Homo sapiens: one gene and its partner. The protein of the gene in region 2 interacts with the protein of the main gene of each other region in a pairwise test. Each region holds a gene or a part of one and is shown on either strand. Other genes may lie near its edges.

Region 1 (8,585 bases), on a different chromosome or scaffold from region 2:
TCCCATTTTACAGATCCTGGTACTGGGGCTTTCTGGTCATTAAAACACCTGCCTAAAACCACTAATCAGTAAATGGGAGGCTGGCTTTTGAACCCAGTTTTGGTCGTTGTTCTTAATCATTATTCTTTATTGTTTATGGACATGTTTGTCTAATAGCATAATATGTAGAATCAAAGAAATGATATTAAGTGTGGAAATGGAGTCTCCAAACTCTTTATGCTTGTTTAAACGATCTTCTCTCTCGAGAGTGTATCTTCATCCTTTCATGCTTTTTCTCTCTCTCTGCTCTCCCACACCGATGCTCCCCACACCGTACACACATACACACACACACACTCACACCGTTGGAGTTCTGGTCTAACACTTACTTCATAGAGCAACCTAAAAGGCATAATGTGGTTGACCTTGTCCAATAACTGTACCACTTCCTGGGAGTTCATGAAGCTGTTCATGTTTGCAACGAATATACCATCCAGTGACTCTAAAGCTGCTGTTGTTCTTTACAAAGACATGATCCTATAGCCCTGGCTATTTCAAGATCAGTGTCCGCAGTTGTTTCAAGACATGGCATTGGGCTGTGATGAACCACATCAGTTTCTCAAGTGTAAGGAGGTAAGTTAGCATCTAAAACAATTCTGTCGCCCATGTGTAGTCAAAACAAGTTAAAAGTGCACTTGCTTTCACGATACCAAATACTTTGAAGCAAGAAGGAAGCTCAGACAGGAGAGAATCCAAAAACAATGAAAACGGAAGGAAAAAACACTGAAGTCAAGAATTCTCTGATTTTTTTGAAGCTATAAAATGAGAGAAGCGGAGGGAAAAAATCACATAACGCTCACTCTAAATCAAGCAAGATCAAACAGTCTTGGAAGGGATATTGCCGATTCATTTCAACCCAAGAGTCATAGGGAAACAATTAATGGGTACTGAGTATCTTACTCAGCCTTCTGCAAATCTATCAATGTCGTCACGGATTTTTTTTTTTTTTTTTTTTTTTTTTTTTTGGTTTATGTAAAGGGGGAAATATTCAAACATGAAATGAAAGAAAAAAATAGTCAAAATTATTTACTTTAACTTCTAACCTATATAGAGTCTAAGTGAACTTCCAATAAATACTAGAAATAAAAAAAAGATTCACTTAAAAATAGACAAATTTGTTAGATTTCATTTAGTTAAGAAAAATCATCCAGAATAAATTAGGTCTGGATTTATATAGTACCTTTTAAAGATATTAATGTTAACTGTAATAGAAGGGTGAAAAGATCTACTTTTTTAACCACATAAACCTTTACAAAAAGACCACCCAACAACTTAATAAGGCTCCTCAAATATGGATGAAAATCCGGTACCTTAAAGAAGTAATTGTTTTAATGGTTAACAGAGTTTAAAATTTCCCAAATTCTTGACCAGAGAATTACTTACTAGGCGAACCTCTAATAGAGTCAACGTTTTAATCGGGTATAGTTTTATCATACTTAAATGGCAAGATAGCGAATTTTCTATTTTAAAATTTCTATTCCATACATATGTTCAATAGTTGAAACTTTACAATGTATCTGACAATACCAACGGGTATGATTCAAATGACCCTACTGTTCCAGAGAATTTCCAAGAAAATAAAGAAATCTCTTACAATAGCCTAAATAGAAGCATAGTTTTAATTTGAATTTTTAAATGTGTGTAATTTTCTAACAAATAAATGTCAGAAAGTATTGACTCATATATATATTAGCATTTACAAAACAAAGTTTAACATCTTTTTCCTCCCTTGCTAATGGGTCTTGAAAAAGTGCCAGGTGTAGGAATATGCCATTGTTATCATATTCTTATAAGCTGCCTTATACATTTTTTAAGATCTATGTTGTATTAATTTCTTAACAATTTATCGGGAACATTTGCATTCACAGAAAAATAAATGCTTGATATTTAAACATAATTAAAATTATCATTCTTATCTATTTAAGTTTCAAGAGAAATAAAATTAAATTACACTTAACTGTTGGTCTAATTTGGTAAATTTCATATAGGCAATTAATAATTAGTGTAGTGGGTTAACAACTAAGCTAACATTTATACACTATTCATATACTGTTAAATCAATAATTTAGTTTAAAAATAAAATTAGAACAAATATTTATTAAGTGGTAACACTTTCTCCTGAAGGCTCCCATTTAATACATTTCTAAAGAAGAAGGCTAGTTTTAGAAAGGTGTGCTGGCAATAATCTGATTGCACCTCATACAAATGAGAATTCTACTGATTGAAAGGAGCCATGGCAGCTAGAAATTATTTTTTAATAGGATTTTTTAAAAATCACATGGGTAACAGTTGAAAATGTAACTGGTAATTAAAGCCTGCTTCTTAACAAAGTTTTACTTTATTTTTTAAGGAGAAGTACAAGCTTTTAGACTATAGTTTCAGATACAAGGAATATTAGTGCAGATATTTAGAAGTCAATTTATTTTGCATGGTATTATACACAGAACTTACACTGTACCTTTCAAATGAAAAGCATAAAACAAATCTGAAAACTAAAAGCTCACATTTTCTCCCCCTGTACTCTCTATTTTGACCTAATAATCATTTAAAGTGTGGGTGTTTATCAATAAAAATTTTTGCAGCACCACACATTGTGGTGGAACGTTGCTATTTCCCGAGATAAGTACAAAAAACCTCAATGCTAATTTGCATCACAAAATGATCTAACATATCTGGAATATAATGCACAAGCTTCATTGAAAAGAAACCATTATATTTTTCTTTTCGAAACAAAAAGTACAGATATCTGATTGGGTCTGGGTGTGCTGGAGGTAGGGGGTGGGGAAGAGGTCTCATTTTCTATCTCACACCTATTGTTTTATGTATTCTAAACTGCTATATGGGAATAAAAAGGAAACATACTGAATCCACTTTGCAGTTAATGTCTTAGTAATTTAAGAGGCAGAATTTTCAAGTTAAAGAAGGGAAACATTATACTTTTCCTTTCCCAAAGGTATTTCCCCTATTTCCCAGGAAGAAGGCCCTCTGTTCCTTACCCTATGTAGGGGGAAATAAAGGACATTAGTTAGGGCTGAAATCACTCCGAGACAGAAGAGGGGAAGTTTATGATGTGGCACTGTGCACAGTATCTGGTCTGCAGCCAGGAAGTTTTCATTTTGTAGCTCTGCTGCCAGTACCTGCCCTGCATATTCAGGAATAAAAATATACCAGAACTCTACCTGAAAAACTGTGGATGTTACAAAGAATTAAAAGAGTTTATTTTTCTTTCTTTATCCTGAGTGTAATTACTGTTTTTTAAAAAGAAAGAGCTGAAACTGTAGTAACTGGAGTTTTTTTTTTTTTTTTTTTTCCTTTTTAAACTCCTCAAACTACCTTCCCACAAAGCCATTTAAGTTAAATGGTACATTTACAGACTCACCTACATGAAGGATATAACTTAAAACATCTGCTTAGACACATACGTTCTGTTCAGATATAAAAAATGTGGCAAAAATTTTTAAAAATATAGGACCACTATATTCTTAAAATGTGTGTTCTTCTGTGTGTGTGTGTTCATTCATTCAAGAGATCTTTGACTGCAATTAGGTAGTCGGTCCTATAAAGGCTTCCTTGTGTGACGATAATTTCTAAAAGTAAAATGCTCCAGTGAATATTTCTGCTAAATAATCATATCTTAAAATTACTTTAAAGAAATTCCAATCCCTCATGTTACATTAAGCAATAATGCCAGTTTTCCATAATATGCCTTAGTTGTACCACCTTATTCAGGGTCGACAATTAATTAGAAGACAAAAAGTATAAATCGCGTGTTTATTAAGTAGCAGACAAATTTCTTTGTCTGTCTCAACATATTTACATTAATGTGTTTATTTTCTAATTTTGAAAATAAATAAGCATATTTAAGCCAAAGCTGCCTGTCTTCGGGGTTTGGGGAAGGATGCACATTCTCTTGCTATCCTTCTAACTTGCTGAAAGAATCACAGGTGTGAAAAAAAGACAGGCATAGTTCTTGGCTGATTTTTAAAAAAACACTTCACATTCTATCGAAGGACCATATCCACTTCTTTTTTAATCCAATATGCTAGGAATCCATAGTATCTGAGAGCAATTTATATGAATTCTTCATGTGCATCTTATCTATGACAACAAGATAGAAGAGGAAAACCAGACCACCACGCTCATGATGCTATTTGGAAAAAGCAGGTTCTCAAAAGGGACTGATTCAAAGATCAGTTAGTTCCTCCAGCCTCTAAAAACAAGTTTTGGGTACTTAATTTAAATCACTGCTTGAGGACTTGCACTGTCATTCTACATGAATCCCAACCACTTGCAGGAGGAACAACATTGCTCCATTCATTTCAAATTTACAGCATTAAGAATTAATAAAGTCTTTATAATGTCTGCATTATTTAAGAGTAATGATTCCTGAAGAAATCTGCCTGTAATATGTTTACTGTTTTTATTGCTTGTAATGTCGTCAATTTCCTTTTCAATGCCCTCAAAAGATTCTCTTCATGTACTTTGAACTTTGTTTACATTGGCTGTATTTTAAAAATATATACCAAGATTTAACTTGTACAATAAAATGACAATGTACAGCAAATGAATTATGGCGATGACAAATAAATGTTACTCATATCACCTAAAACTAAACCATAAATTTGTATAACATGTATCACCTAATTTCCATATTTAATAGGAATATGATTTTTTGCAGTAAACATTAAAATAGTATCAAGGAGATGTGAGATAATAGTATATTAAATAACCTTTTCTATAATCTTATTTTTACAATGGTATTCTTTGTCATAGAACATTCTTTAATTATTTTTCTTTCACAGACAAAAATAACAAAAGAACATCAATGCCATCTTCGTATTCTTAAAAGAGAGGGGTAAGGAATGAATGCTTCCAGCACCCTTTATTTTGTTATGCCTCAATATTGTCTGTAAAATAACATGGTTACTAAAAAATTCTTGATTTGAGCAAGACCAAAATTATTACAGTGTACTTTACAGTTATTTCACGCATGAATGTTAAAACATACTGAAATTATAAAACTTTCATAGACTTTTTTTCAGTATTCAGTTTAAGATAGGTTGTCAATAAGAGCTACTTTAAAAAAAACTGACAATTTTCTTTGCTCACTAACTATAGGAGATCATTGCAAATTATTTTCTTTCTCATGCTGCTATTCACTTACGTACTGCATATTTGCTTCAATTCTCCAAGGGAAGAAATGTGGCTCTTGTGGGAAAGGTCCACCCCTTTCTACATGTTTGCTTCCTTGAACGAAAGGAACACACCCCCTTACATTCTTTGAAATGTGTCCAACAATTGTAATAGCACTGTATTATTGACTAAATTAGAAAATCTTAAGTGATAGTCAAATATTGTTAATACACTGTGTATTTTGAGTCAGGAGAACTAAATGACACATATACAGAATGAAGTTCAATCTAGTGTCTACACTTGGATGCTATAGAATGTTTGTGTTAGTAGAAGAAACTCATGAATGTTTTTGTGTACAGGTATGTTGTATGACACCTCAGGAAGAGGCCCATGAATGTTACAAGTTTTTGATGGCCTCCTTTCAATTTAAGACCCATTACAGGAATGACCCCTTTCTTTCATAAGTATATTGGATAAAAAACATTTAGAAACTTAGGAAGTAGAATCAGAGAGCTGTTTGAAATCACAAACATGCAAAAATATCACAGGTCTACGCTTACCATCCTAATGGCAGAAAACTCACACCAAAGTTGGCACCCACTAACTTCTACCTCATTAAGGCAAGCTGCTGGTCATTGGATATTGTGTTCTAACACGACTTCCCTTTATGTAGAATAATATGTTTCCTTCCAAGGAAAGTTTTTCTTTTGTTGTTATTTTCTAATAAATATACTCCATATTTATAGAAAATTTTGCATTTATCTTTGATTTTATCTTTTCTAAATAGTCTTTCTTTATTCCACTTTTACAAAGAAATTTTCAAGTGTAAAGACACAGCAGGAAAAAAAATTATATCTCTTTTAAGATATTTTAGTGTGTAAATGAAATGGATAGTCCTTGTGCAATTTATCAGGCATTTCAGAATGAACCCAACTGTATAATTCCCAGGCCTACAAAATGAAAGCTTTGTTATTTACCTATGTTTCTCACTTGAAATAAGAGTGAATATAAAGAGTGAATATATAACTGCAACTGAAGGTAATAAACTTGTTAAAACTTAGTAAGATATTGTGATGGTCAAAGAAAACCTGCAAGTGCGTGCCACAAATCCACTCAGATGAAACATCTCATTCACTAAAATTTTCTATCTTATTATAATAGTGCACAGAAAATTAAACACATAAATATTAATTTTATGTATCACAGATGATGTAGGCAATGAAAATGCAATGTTTACATTTATGGGTGACTCATTAGTGTTTTATTGTGTGAAACACTAGGAGGCATCAGTTGGGTAAAAAAGGACTTCAATTTTAGAAGAAGCAAAAAATTACTGTAAAGTTGGGTGTGTAAGAAGTTAAGATTTTCAAAATGTTATTATGTAAACCAAAACTTTATTCTCTGAAATAAACTCTCAAAACATCATATTCTGTTGTAAAGAATGATCTTTATATAACATTCATGAAATATATATATTATATATATATATAAAATTTGACCAATGAACTTTTATGAAGATATGTTTCACATATATGGATTCATAACTATGTAATTACACATTTTTATGTAGAATATATTTGGTAACAGAATAACATAATGGATATTGACTATTATGCATTTTCTGCTGAATTACTCAATAACATGAGTGTATGTTTTATTTCTGGCAAATTCTGTTTTGTGCTCTTTATAACGCCTCTGAAAATGTCTAATGCATTTAAGCCTTACAATACCTGCTTCATGTAAGCAGACAATTTAATGTTTGTTCATAAAGAAATGATGGAACTTAAAATTTACACAATGAAGACATACATAAAAAAGGACATGTTTTCTCTTACTTCACTACTGAAAGCCTGTCATTTGAAAACTGAATTTTCCATTGTTTGAATGGATCATAATGATGAAGCAACAGGGTCAAAGTATGCTTATCTAAGCAATCATTTGAAATTGAGTGTCTTGCCATTCCTCAACAATCAGCTTTTATCTTTGACCTATCAAAATAACATGTGAACTATGTAATCTGCCTTTTGTAACGTGCATAGACTCTGTTGTTCCTGGTTTTGTGAATCACCTCTGTAATCTGGTTTGATTTCCTAAAGGTGACAGATCTCGGTGAACAGTCAAGCTTTACTGAGTGCAAGACAGTCCACGCGCCTATAAGATTAAGGTACAGTGCTAAGGACGGGGATCTTAATTACCTGTCTTTCCACATGCAGCATACTGATGGAACAACAGTGATTAAATCATTTCATCGTGTCTAGGCAATCACCACATTAGTATAGAATGAATACGTGTATTTTGATAAGTTTTAGATATTAATTTGTGTGGTATTTTCTCAGAGGATGTGCTTTTGAAAAAAAAGTGTAACTTTATTAATAATCTCTTAACAGTTCATCTTGTGACCATTAATTGCATATTAAATTCTTCTATGTTGCTTCGAATCATGTCCCCAAAGCCAGAATTCTGTTTAATAACTATGTCTTTGTTGTTATGTAGCACAAGTATTGCTGCACAGCTATTTCCCCATTTTTGTCACTTTCTGAGATTTCATAGACTCAAATTATACCACACTTTAGAGTTGAGAAATAAAACCACAAAATATACTACAATAAACAGAAGAAAGTTTTAAAAGATAATGTTAAGATATGCTAAGGAGTTATTCAGTGCTGTTCTTTATAAAAGAAGTTTAAATAAAGTATTTATTAGAAAGATACGTTTGCAGTGTTATGGAATTTATTGATTCCGTTAAGTTAGGGCCAAGGAAAAAATTTCAGGTATCTTTTCCCCCAAATTTTTCAAAATGAACATGTTTACAAAGAAGAAAAGAGGCAAAGTGCCTCTTGTTATCTAAGTTTCATGGAGTTATCTAGTATTAATGTGCTTCTCTCTTGAAAAGTTAATATCTGTGATTGCACACTTTTAAAATATGAATAGCTCAGAAAAGGTGGAAAACTGTTTTTATTATAAATTGCTCATTTGTTATTGAAATAAAAAACAAATTAACATTTAATAAAACTTACACTTTAATATTATCTTTCAATATATTCCACATGCACAGCAATCAGGACGTAAATGGTGCAATTAATGAATGAAGTAAAATGCTGCCTTTCCTAAGAAGTCTGAAAAAAAGTCAAACATTCGAATGCTGTGTGAATTATATTAATAAAAATAGTAGGTTTTTATAAAATTTAGTAAAATTTGAAGTAAAGGTAACAGCCACCTACTGTCTCTTTGACGGGAGAACCAAATTTTAAGCAAATGTTATGTTTAAAGACTGTTTTGATGAAAACTTTTAGAATTGAGTTAGTAGCAGAATACATAGCTAAATGTACTTTTCTACAAATAGAATGAGATATTTGATTTAAAATATTTCTTTCCTCTTGAAATAGGATGTTAGATAGGGACATCTCATTTTA
Region 2 (9,060 bases):
AGGATTACACTTAAAATCCTGTAACAAAATCCAGAATCCAAGACTTGTGTTCATCTTTGTATTCCCTTTGCCCCTGATTCAGAATCTAACTAAAGTTAAAAATATAACTTTATTAAATTATTTGTCCAATGAAAATCCTAGTTTCACTTTTAATATCAATCCCTCTCCCCAAAGAGAAAGCATAAATTGGTTTTCAAAGAGATGAGTCATATCTTCTTTTTACAGAGAGACAACACACAATCAAGAGAACATACATAGGTCTTGAGCTTCAGCAAAGGTGGTACTGGCCTGGCCTTCAGCTGTGAATGGAAATTAAGGTGGCAGGAGACTCAGGGCACAGGGTCTCTGATCTCAGGGCAGCAGACCCCTTTGGCCACTAGGAAAGCCATCTCCCCCTACAGATCCTGATGCTGAATGAAGATAAAGTCTAATCTGAAGTATGGTTCAGCTCCAGAGTGTTCTGATATAGGAAAGGGGTCTGAAGGTGCAGAAATTAAGTCCCTTATTGTATTGGAGGAGAAAGAGAAGCCTTCTTATCTTTCTGCAATGTCTGTACTCTGGGTGATACTCACCAAAGGGGATCAGTGCTTTGTCCTTCCCACTCCCCCACCCTCATGACAAGACAGAACACTGAATGCTGCTATTCGGAAAAAGTGAAAAGGCAATCTCTGATATGTGGAGAGACTTGCAAAGCAAATTACCCAACAACATCTGATTTAATTCTCATAACACCCTTGACATACAGGCAAAGGGAGTACTACCACCTCATTTATGAATGAAGGTATCAAACCTTCCTTTTGTGAGTTGTTTACTTCTCCCTTCATGTGAAGATAAATGGGACATTGTTCAAGTGTCTTAGCCAACTAAAGCCCTAAGGACTTGCTCAGAATCAGGCCCACTGTGTGGCAAGGGAGCCAAGAAAGCAGGGCCCAGTGGCTCTGCTGAAGCCCCTTGCATGTGGAGGCCACAGAACATCTCTATAGTCTATCTTACTTGCTACTTTTCATGTCTAAAAATCGGGTTACTATCTCCATCATCTTAATATGCCAGTATCACCACCATTTCTCAAAAATGACAGGAATGACTCACCCCTAGGTGCTGGGACAGTGAGACAGAGTGGCACTGGATCTCCATTGGCTGGAGTGATGATCACAGAGTGGTTCCAGGAAGCCAAGTGCTGAGGCTCCTCCTGCCACACACCCTTTCCTGGGTGGGTTGTGTGAGCATGACTTTCTTATTAATCCCTTTCTCTTTAGACCTGGGCTAGAGTGCTCTACATACATATCATTGAAGTCTCACAACTCTTGGAGGTAGATACTATAATTACTGGCATAGGTGAAATAGAGACCCCTAGAGTGTCTCAGGGTCACACAGCTCTCAGGTAAAGGGGCCTAGATACCAAGTCAAATCAGCCTGCTTTATCTGGAATTCCATGGGCCTAGGAGAGCAGAACATGTGGCCAGTTCTCTCAGGTCGGGAGGAGGGATTATAATCTAGGTCACACAGTCAGAGGCAGGATTCTAATTTTGGCTCCTGAGCCTCCCATCTTTTGCTTCACACTGGTGAAAACAACCAGAAAGCCAATATCAATGGAAAACTCTCTTGGTAGAATCCCCAAGGATAGAAATGCAAACCTCTAAAGAAAAATTATAGACTGTTCTACCCTAGGGTTGGAGGAGAAAGTGGAGATGACAGTGTTGAGGTGCAAACTCCAGGTTTACTTGAGTGGGGGGAGGAGAACGCCTCGGTTCTTGGAAGGCTTTGCAAAGCATGTAAGGAAGAAAACTTAGCATACTAGGGTGAGAAGAGTGAGGTCAGGCTCAGGGCTGGCATAGGGAGAATAGAGACAAATGTTCTGGCGGTTTTGGCCAGAAGGATCCCAGCAACGACTGTCCTTCCTCCTGGCCTGAGGCCAATGAGTAAGGCCACTACAAGACAAGGCTTCTTCACTACAATGCACTTCCACTCCATTTGGGCACCCATTTCATGGTGTGTGTAGGGGGGAGGAGGAGAGGAGGTTCTGTCCTCTACTTCCCTGGTATTGAGATCTCTGTGTATGCATCCTGGAAAAGGAAACACGTGCTGGCTACCAGCAAATTTTCTAAGCTGTTAGATACAAGTTTCAAAATTAGCTACTGTACATCCCTTGTGTGTAGATCAGAAAACTGAGGCCAGTAGAGGCAGAGGGACTTGTTCAAGGTTATAAGGCACCATTGTGGTAGAGCTCAGACTCGGGACCTTTGTGAAGTGAGTCCAAGTTAGTAGGGAGTTTGGGGCTCATGTTTCAGCTTAATGTAAAAGAAAACACATCTAGATGCTTCCACATTTGCGACACTCCCTCCCACCCCCAACACTCAACTATTTGGCTGAAATAGAGTGAATGGGGCATTAGGACACAGCTGGGTCATGTGGGAGGTGGGTAAGGAGTGCCTGAATAATTCCTATTTCTGCAAGTGGTCTGAGGCTTACTCTGGCTGGGAGGTGCAGGGTGCCCAGGCTGTGTTGTGACTCTGCTTTTGGGTGCTCACCTCCTATACTTCCAGAGACCTCTTAGGCCCTTTCCTTGGTCAGGGATGTGGAGAAAGGCCTGAGGTGTGAATCCCACGGGGTTCAGCCAGTCCTGTGAGGCCATCAAGCCACAGGTTACCATGGGGAGAAGGGGCTGTGTGGCTGGGAAAGGTTACAGAATTGACCTCTGTTGGCACGATTTGGTCCTATACCTCTGAAGCCTACCTATTCTGCAAAGATGAAACTGAGGTAGAGAAGAGAGGTGATTCACTTCGGGAGCCGCCCGTCATTACTGCCCACCATCATCACTATTGTTCCAGAAACACTCAGCCAGCCCACATACCAAGAGCAGCTCCCTGGGTCATCCCCTTGGCCCTTTAGAAAGATCCACCTCCACAAAGGGGAGTTCAATTAGAACCAATTATCCGGATAATTCACCACAATCATTCCTGCACCCAGATCTCGGATTATTTCTACTGGAAAATCAAATGGATGATTGCCCTCCACTTCGTTCTGCCTATGTAGACAAGACCTGAGACATGCCCCAGCCTCTCTCCGGACCAGATCCTTAAAGAGATGGGGCCTATTGCTTGGTCTGCTTTCTCCGCAGCGCCGCGTCCCCAGACGTCCTGAAGCTGGACGGGGTTCTGGCCAGAGAGCGCCAGGGCCGAAGGCCCAGGAAGGACGCCTGGGCAGGCGCTGTCCAAGCGGTCGAGCGACGGCTGCAAGCGCCTCCCCCTCCCTCTCGGCGCCAGCACGCGGCCCCGCCGGGCTCCGCTCCCAGTCGCCTGCCACCGGGCCGCCGGGCACACGCCTGGGGCGGGATGGTGGCTGCGCCAAGGCCGCCGAGGTGCCCGCGGCGGCGCCGAAGAACCAGGAATCCCCACCAGTGCCCTAAGCGCCATCACTCAACCCCCGCCCCGCATCTTTCTTCTCCGAGGGTCTGGGAGTATCCCAGAGCACTCCCTTCTTTATGATATCCGCTAAGCTGGTCCGGAAATAATCTTTATGGGGAGGGGGTGGCGGTAGGGGGCGATGGTACAGGGGGCCAGAGGTCATCCTAGGGGGACGTCCCTGCCATATACACCCACCTACAGGACGGCTCACAACCACTCCTCGGTGTCGCTTCCCCGCGGCCCCCCACACACTTGCTCAGTTATGGGGAGCACATCCTAGTTTTTAGAGCTGAATGGGACATTAGAGACCATATTCTGTGGCTGCAGACGAGGAAGCGAAGGCTCAGAGAGGATGCCACTTCGAGGAGCCACAGAGCATTGAGAGGACGCCTTGGGACTAGAACCCACGTTTTCACATAGTCCAGCACTTTTTTTCACTGTTCTGGACGGAGTCCCTCCCCCAACCATGTTTCTAAACTTCAATCGTAATTTGCTCCAATTTCTAGGGTCACCGAGGAACCCGAAGAGAATAACAGTGAGGAGAGAGAGAAAACAGGAAAAGTCGAGCCCCACTCCCTCCTCACCTCCACACCGTTCCTGTGCCATTTTTTCTGCCCAAACCCTTCCCTGCGCTTTGCTTCAAGTTCTTAGTAGAATCCAAGAGAGCTTCACCCCAAGTCTTTCCACCTATACACCTCAATTCCTAGAGCCATTTGTCCCTCCTGTGACGCCCCCCACCCCCTTCCTAAAGCCACCCCCGGCAGCAGCCCGCCCCGAGCGCGCCGCCTGTTTATTCAGCCGGGAGTCCGGCACGCGCCAGGCGCACGCACTGCAACAACAAACCCAGCTGAATGGAGAGTTTGCAAGGAGCGGGAGAAAGGAACGGGAGGGGGGGAGAGGAGAGGAGGAGGGGGAGTTTAGGGAGTGGGTGGGAGGAAGAGGTAAGAGGAGGGGGGGGAGTGGGGGCTGCAGCCGCTCGCTGCAGCAGCGGGGAGTGGGGGGCGAGGCGGGGCCAGGGCTGCGCGTGGGGCTGGGTGTCCCATTGAAAAGGCGGACGCACTCCGGCAGCCCAGCACTCTCTCACTTCTGGCCAGGGAACGTGGAAGGCGCACCGACAGGGATCCGGCCAGGGAGGGCGAGTGAAAGAAGGAAATCAGAAAGGAAGGGAGTTAACAAAATAATAAAAACAGCCTGAGCCACGGCTGGAGAGACCGAGACCCGGCGCAAGAGAGCGCAGCCTTAGTAGGAGAGGAACGCGAGACGCGGCAGAGCGCGTTCAGCACTGACTTTTGCTGCTGCTTCTGCTTTTTTTTTTCTTAGAAACAAGAAGGCGCCAGCGGCAGCCTCACACGCGAGCGCCACGCGAGGCTCCCGAAGCCAACCCGCGAAGGGAGGAGGGGAGGGAGGAGGAGGCGGCGTGCAGGGAGGAGAAAAAGCATTTTCACTTTTTTTGCTCCCACTCTAAGAAGTCTCCCGGGGATTTTGTATATATTTTTTAACTTCCGTCAGGGCTCCCGCTTCATATTTCCTTTTCTTTCCCTCTCTGTTCCTGCACCCAAGTTCTCTCTGTGTCCCCCTCGCGGGCCCCGCACCTCGCGTCCCGGATCGCTCTGATTCCGCGACTCCTTGGCCGCCGCTGCGCATGGAAAGCTCTGCCAAGATGGAGAGCGGCGGCGCCGGCCAGCAGCCCCAGCCGCAGCCCCAGCAGCCCTTCCTGCCGCCCGCAGCCTGTTTCTTTGCCACGGCCGCAGCCGCGGCGGCCGCAGCCGCCGCAGCGGCAGCGCAGAGCGCGCAGCAGCAGCAGCAGCAGCAGCAGCAGCAGCAGCAGGCGCCGCAGCTGAGACCGGCGGCCGACGGCCAGCCCTCAGGGGGCGGTCACAAGTCAGCGCCCAAGCAAGTCAAGCGACAGCGCTCGTCTTCGCCCGAACTGATGCGCTGCAAACGCCGGCTCAACTTCAGCGGCTTTGGCTACAGCCTGCCGCAGCAGCAGCCGGCCGCCGTGGCGCGCCGCAACGAGCGCGAGCGCAACCGCGTCAAGTTGGTCAACCTGGGCTTTGCCACCCTTCGGGAGCACGTCCCCAACGGCGCGGCCAACAAGAAGATGAGTAAGGTGGAGACACTGCGCTCGGCGGTCGAGTACATCCGCGCGCTGCAGCAGCTGCTGGACGAGCATGACGCGGTGAGCGCCGCCTTCCAGGCAGGCGTCCTGTCGCCCACCATCTCCCCCAACTACTCCAACGACTTGAACTCCATGGCCGGCTCGCCGGTCTCATCCTACTCGTCGGACGAGGGCTCTTACGACCCGCTCAGCCCCGAGGAGCAGGAGCTTCTCGACTTCACCAACTGGTTCTGAGGGGCTCGGCCTGGTCAGGCCCTGGTGCGAATGGACTTTGGAAGCAGGTAGGTTGCATTTTGGGGTGGGCAGGGGGGTATTCTTGCCTTCGTCCTCCCTCTGAGTGTCTGTGGAAGTGGGGATGTCTCCAAGGAGATAAGGGGATTTTTATTTAAAGAATTTGTGAAAGTTGGTCGATTTCAAGTCCTAGTTTGTTAGTTTCAGCACTGGCCTCTGAAAATGGCCTTGCCCAGGTCTCCAAGGAGTGAAGGGTAGTAGTGAGGTGCAGAGATACTGGTGAACCGAATACTGGGACATGTTAAAAGAGATGTCTACCTGACAGACTCTTTCCCCAGACCTCCATCTCCCTCTACCACTAGCCTACACGTTCAAATTAACCTCTCCTGTTCTTTTCCTTATGTTATAGGGTGATCGCACAACCTGCATCTTTAGTGCTTTCTTGTCAGTGGCGTTGGGAGGGGGAGAAAAGGAAAAGAAAAAAAAAAGAAGAAGAAGAAGAAAAGAGAAGAAGAAAAAAACGAAAACAGTCAACCAACCCCATCGCCAACTAAGCGAGGCATGCCTGAGAGACATGGCTTTCAGAAAACGGGAAGCGCTCAGAACAGTATCTTTGCACTCCAATCATTCACGGAGATATGAAGAGCAACTGGGACCTGAGTCAATGCGCAAAATGCAGCTTGTGTGCAAAAGCAGTGGGCTCCTGGCAGAAGGGAGCAGCACACGCGTTATAGTAACTCCCATCACCTCTAACACGCACAGCTGAAAGTTCTTGCTCGGGTCCCTTCACCTCCTCGCCCTTTCTTAAAGTGCAGTTCTTAGCCCTCTAGAAACGAGTTGGTGTCTTTCGTCTCAGTAGCCCCCACCCCAATAAGCTGTAGACATTGGTTTACAGTGAAACTATGCTATTCTCAGCCCTTTGAAACTCTGCTTCTCCTCCAGGGCCCGATTCCCAAACCCCATGGCTTCCCTCACACTGTCTTTTCTACCATTTTCATTATAGAATGCTTCCAATCTTTTGTGAATTTTTTATTATAAAAAATCTATTTGTATCTATCCTAACCAGTTCGGGGATATATTAAGATATTTTTGTACATAAGAGAGAAAGAGAGAGAAAAATTTATAGAAGTTTTGTACAAATGGTTTAAAATGTGTATATCTTGATACTTTAACATGTAATGCTATTACCTCTGCATATTTTAGATGTGTAGTTCACCTTACAACTGCAATTTTCCCTATGTGGTTTTGTAAAGAACTCTCCTCATAGGTGAGATCAAGAGGCCACCAGTTGTACTTCAGCACCAATGTGTCTTACTTTATAGAAATGTTGTTAATGTATTAATGATGTTATTAAATACTGTTCAAGAAGAACAAAGTTTATGCAGCTACTGTCCAAACTCAAAGTGGCAGCCAGTTGGTTTTGATAGGTTGCCTTTTGGAGATTTCTATTACTGCCTTTTTTTTTCTTACTGTTTTATTACAAACTTACAAAAATATGTATAACCCTGTTTTATACAAACTAGTTTCGTAATAAAACTTTTTCCTTTTTTTAAAATGAAAATAATCAGCTGACTCTAAGCTTTCTTTGACTCTGATGCCCCTGGTCCAGTTTTATGAAAATGTCAAAGGGAAGAGGTGGATGGAGAAGAAAATGTTGCAAAACATGCTAAGTGGCAGAAATGACAATGATAAGTGCTATGGCCAGTCCCATCCAAATGGTTTCTTTATGATGAATGAGTGTGTGTTTGTGTGTGTGTGTGTGTGTGTGTGTATGTACATGTATATATGTTTTCTTTCTATCCTATGCTGCAAATGTACATGCCCACCAAAAAGAATAGATGGCTGCATTATCCTTTGATCAAAATTTAAAATCCCCCAAAAAAGTGAACCAGAAAGAGAGGGTCCTCCACCATTTTCCAATTCTCAACTCCATTCTGAGTTTCTCCCTGTGAAACTATGGTGGGGCTGGATGAAATAATGGAGACTAGGTCTGGGTGGGGAGGATGGTGGTTCTGGGATGGGGGTTGGAGAGGCATCCCTCTCCACATACAAGCTCCTAGTGGTGAGTATGTTTCTCTTCCCTCACTTCCAGGCATACATTTTCTACTCATTTTCTCCAATACACCTACTTGCTATATTGATTTTAAGTAAGAGGCATATATGATATGAATTCATTCCAAACGGATTGAGATTTTAATTAAAAAAACGCATTAGAAATGTGTGGTCGCTTTGAGACACTGGTCTATCTAAGCTTGTGACTCTATCCGAATAGCGTGAGCTGCGTGTAAAAGTACCCAATTACCAAGATTCAAAAAGAAATTGGTGGGTTTTTGGCTGGCTTGCTTCTTGTCAGTTAGCAAGGACGTGATTAGAATCCTACTCGGCCTCTCGCCGGCTCCTCGCTCGCCGCCTGCATTACTTGCAGATTCAGTTTGCGTGTCTCCAGCCAAGCGGAAAGCCGAGCGCAAAATGCATCTTACAAAACCCAACAAAGAACGGGTAGCCAGCACGTCTTCCAGAGTTAAAAATCTAGTCTGTGTTGGTACATCTATACCATTTAGTGGCACAGAATAATCATTTTTTAAAGCCACGATGCGCGGAGCACGCCACAGCGTCTGATGTCATTTTGCTAAATGACCCTCTATAGAATGCACATTGAGGCTTCAGTCCCTTTCAAAGAGATGAGCGTAATTAAGGAAAAAAAATCAGTAAATTCCTCATCGCCATAAATAATCGGACTTTCTGCCAGCAGTGGGCCAATTTAGAGCTTACTTGAGAGAAGTAATGCTTTTGTGATGCCTGCTTTTATTTTTATCTTCTCATTTGGAGGACCAGAGATGGGCTCCACCCCCACTCTCCATTTCTCTTTCCTTTAATTTAGCTCCTTTGCAAGATTCCAGATAAGGTATGCAAAGAAAGTGTAGCAAGTCATTTATGGCTATGAATATAACATTAGGATAATGTTTCAGCCCCCACAAAGGGGGATTTTTTTTTCCTTCTCCTGTGAGGACAGGTGTTCTTTACTCACTTCTGAATGGGAAATATCCAGTCTCGTTAAACTCGAGGCAAAGTTAGTCGTTGTTTGCCACAATGCGAAGGCAAACTCGAAAAATTCACAAAAACACACACAATTTTGCCTAAGCTAGGAAAGGGCAAAGCGAGGATTGGGCAAAATCTCATTACATCTGCTCTAATCGCTTAGCAACACAAAGCCGGGGCTTGTGCGGCGAAGGGAAGCCATTCACAGAGCTCTGACAGGCCGCATTCAGCGCGCGTTAGTCAGCTCCATAAATCACCGCTGCCCAT

Evidence for each region. The genes of interacting proteins can lie anywhere in the genome.
Region 1: the proteins of ASCL1 (region 2) and MEF2C interact in a two-hybrid assay, tested with the Homo sapiens proteins (one study listed by BioGRID).

The regions. Positions count from the first base shown.
Region 1 is NC_000005.10:88,872,735-88,881,319, forward strand, and holds part of MEF2C (myocyte-specific enhancer factor 2C), read right to left. Parts: intron 8,289-8,585; exon of another isoform or gene 8,190-8,288; intron 1-8,189. UniProt on the Homo sapiens protein: Transcription activator which binds specifically to the MEF2 element present in the regulatory regions of many muscle-specific genes. Controls cardiac morphogenesis and myogenesis, and is also involved in vascular development.
Region 2 is NC_000012.12:102,953,199-102,962,258, forward strand, and holds ASCL1 (achaete-scute homolog 1), read left to right. Parts: upstream 1-4,475; 5' UTR 4,476-5,046; coding exon 5,047-5,757; 3' UTR 5,758-5,804; intron 5,805-6,163; 3' UTR 6,164-7,315; downstream 7,316-9,060.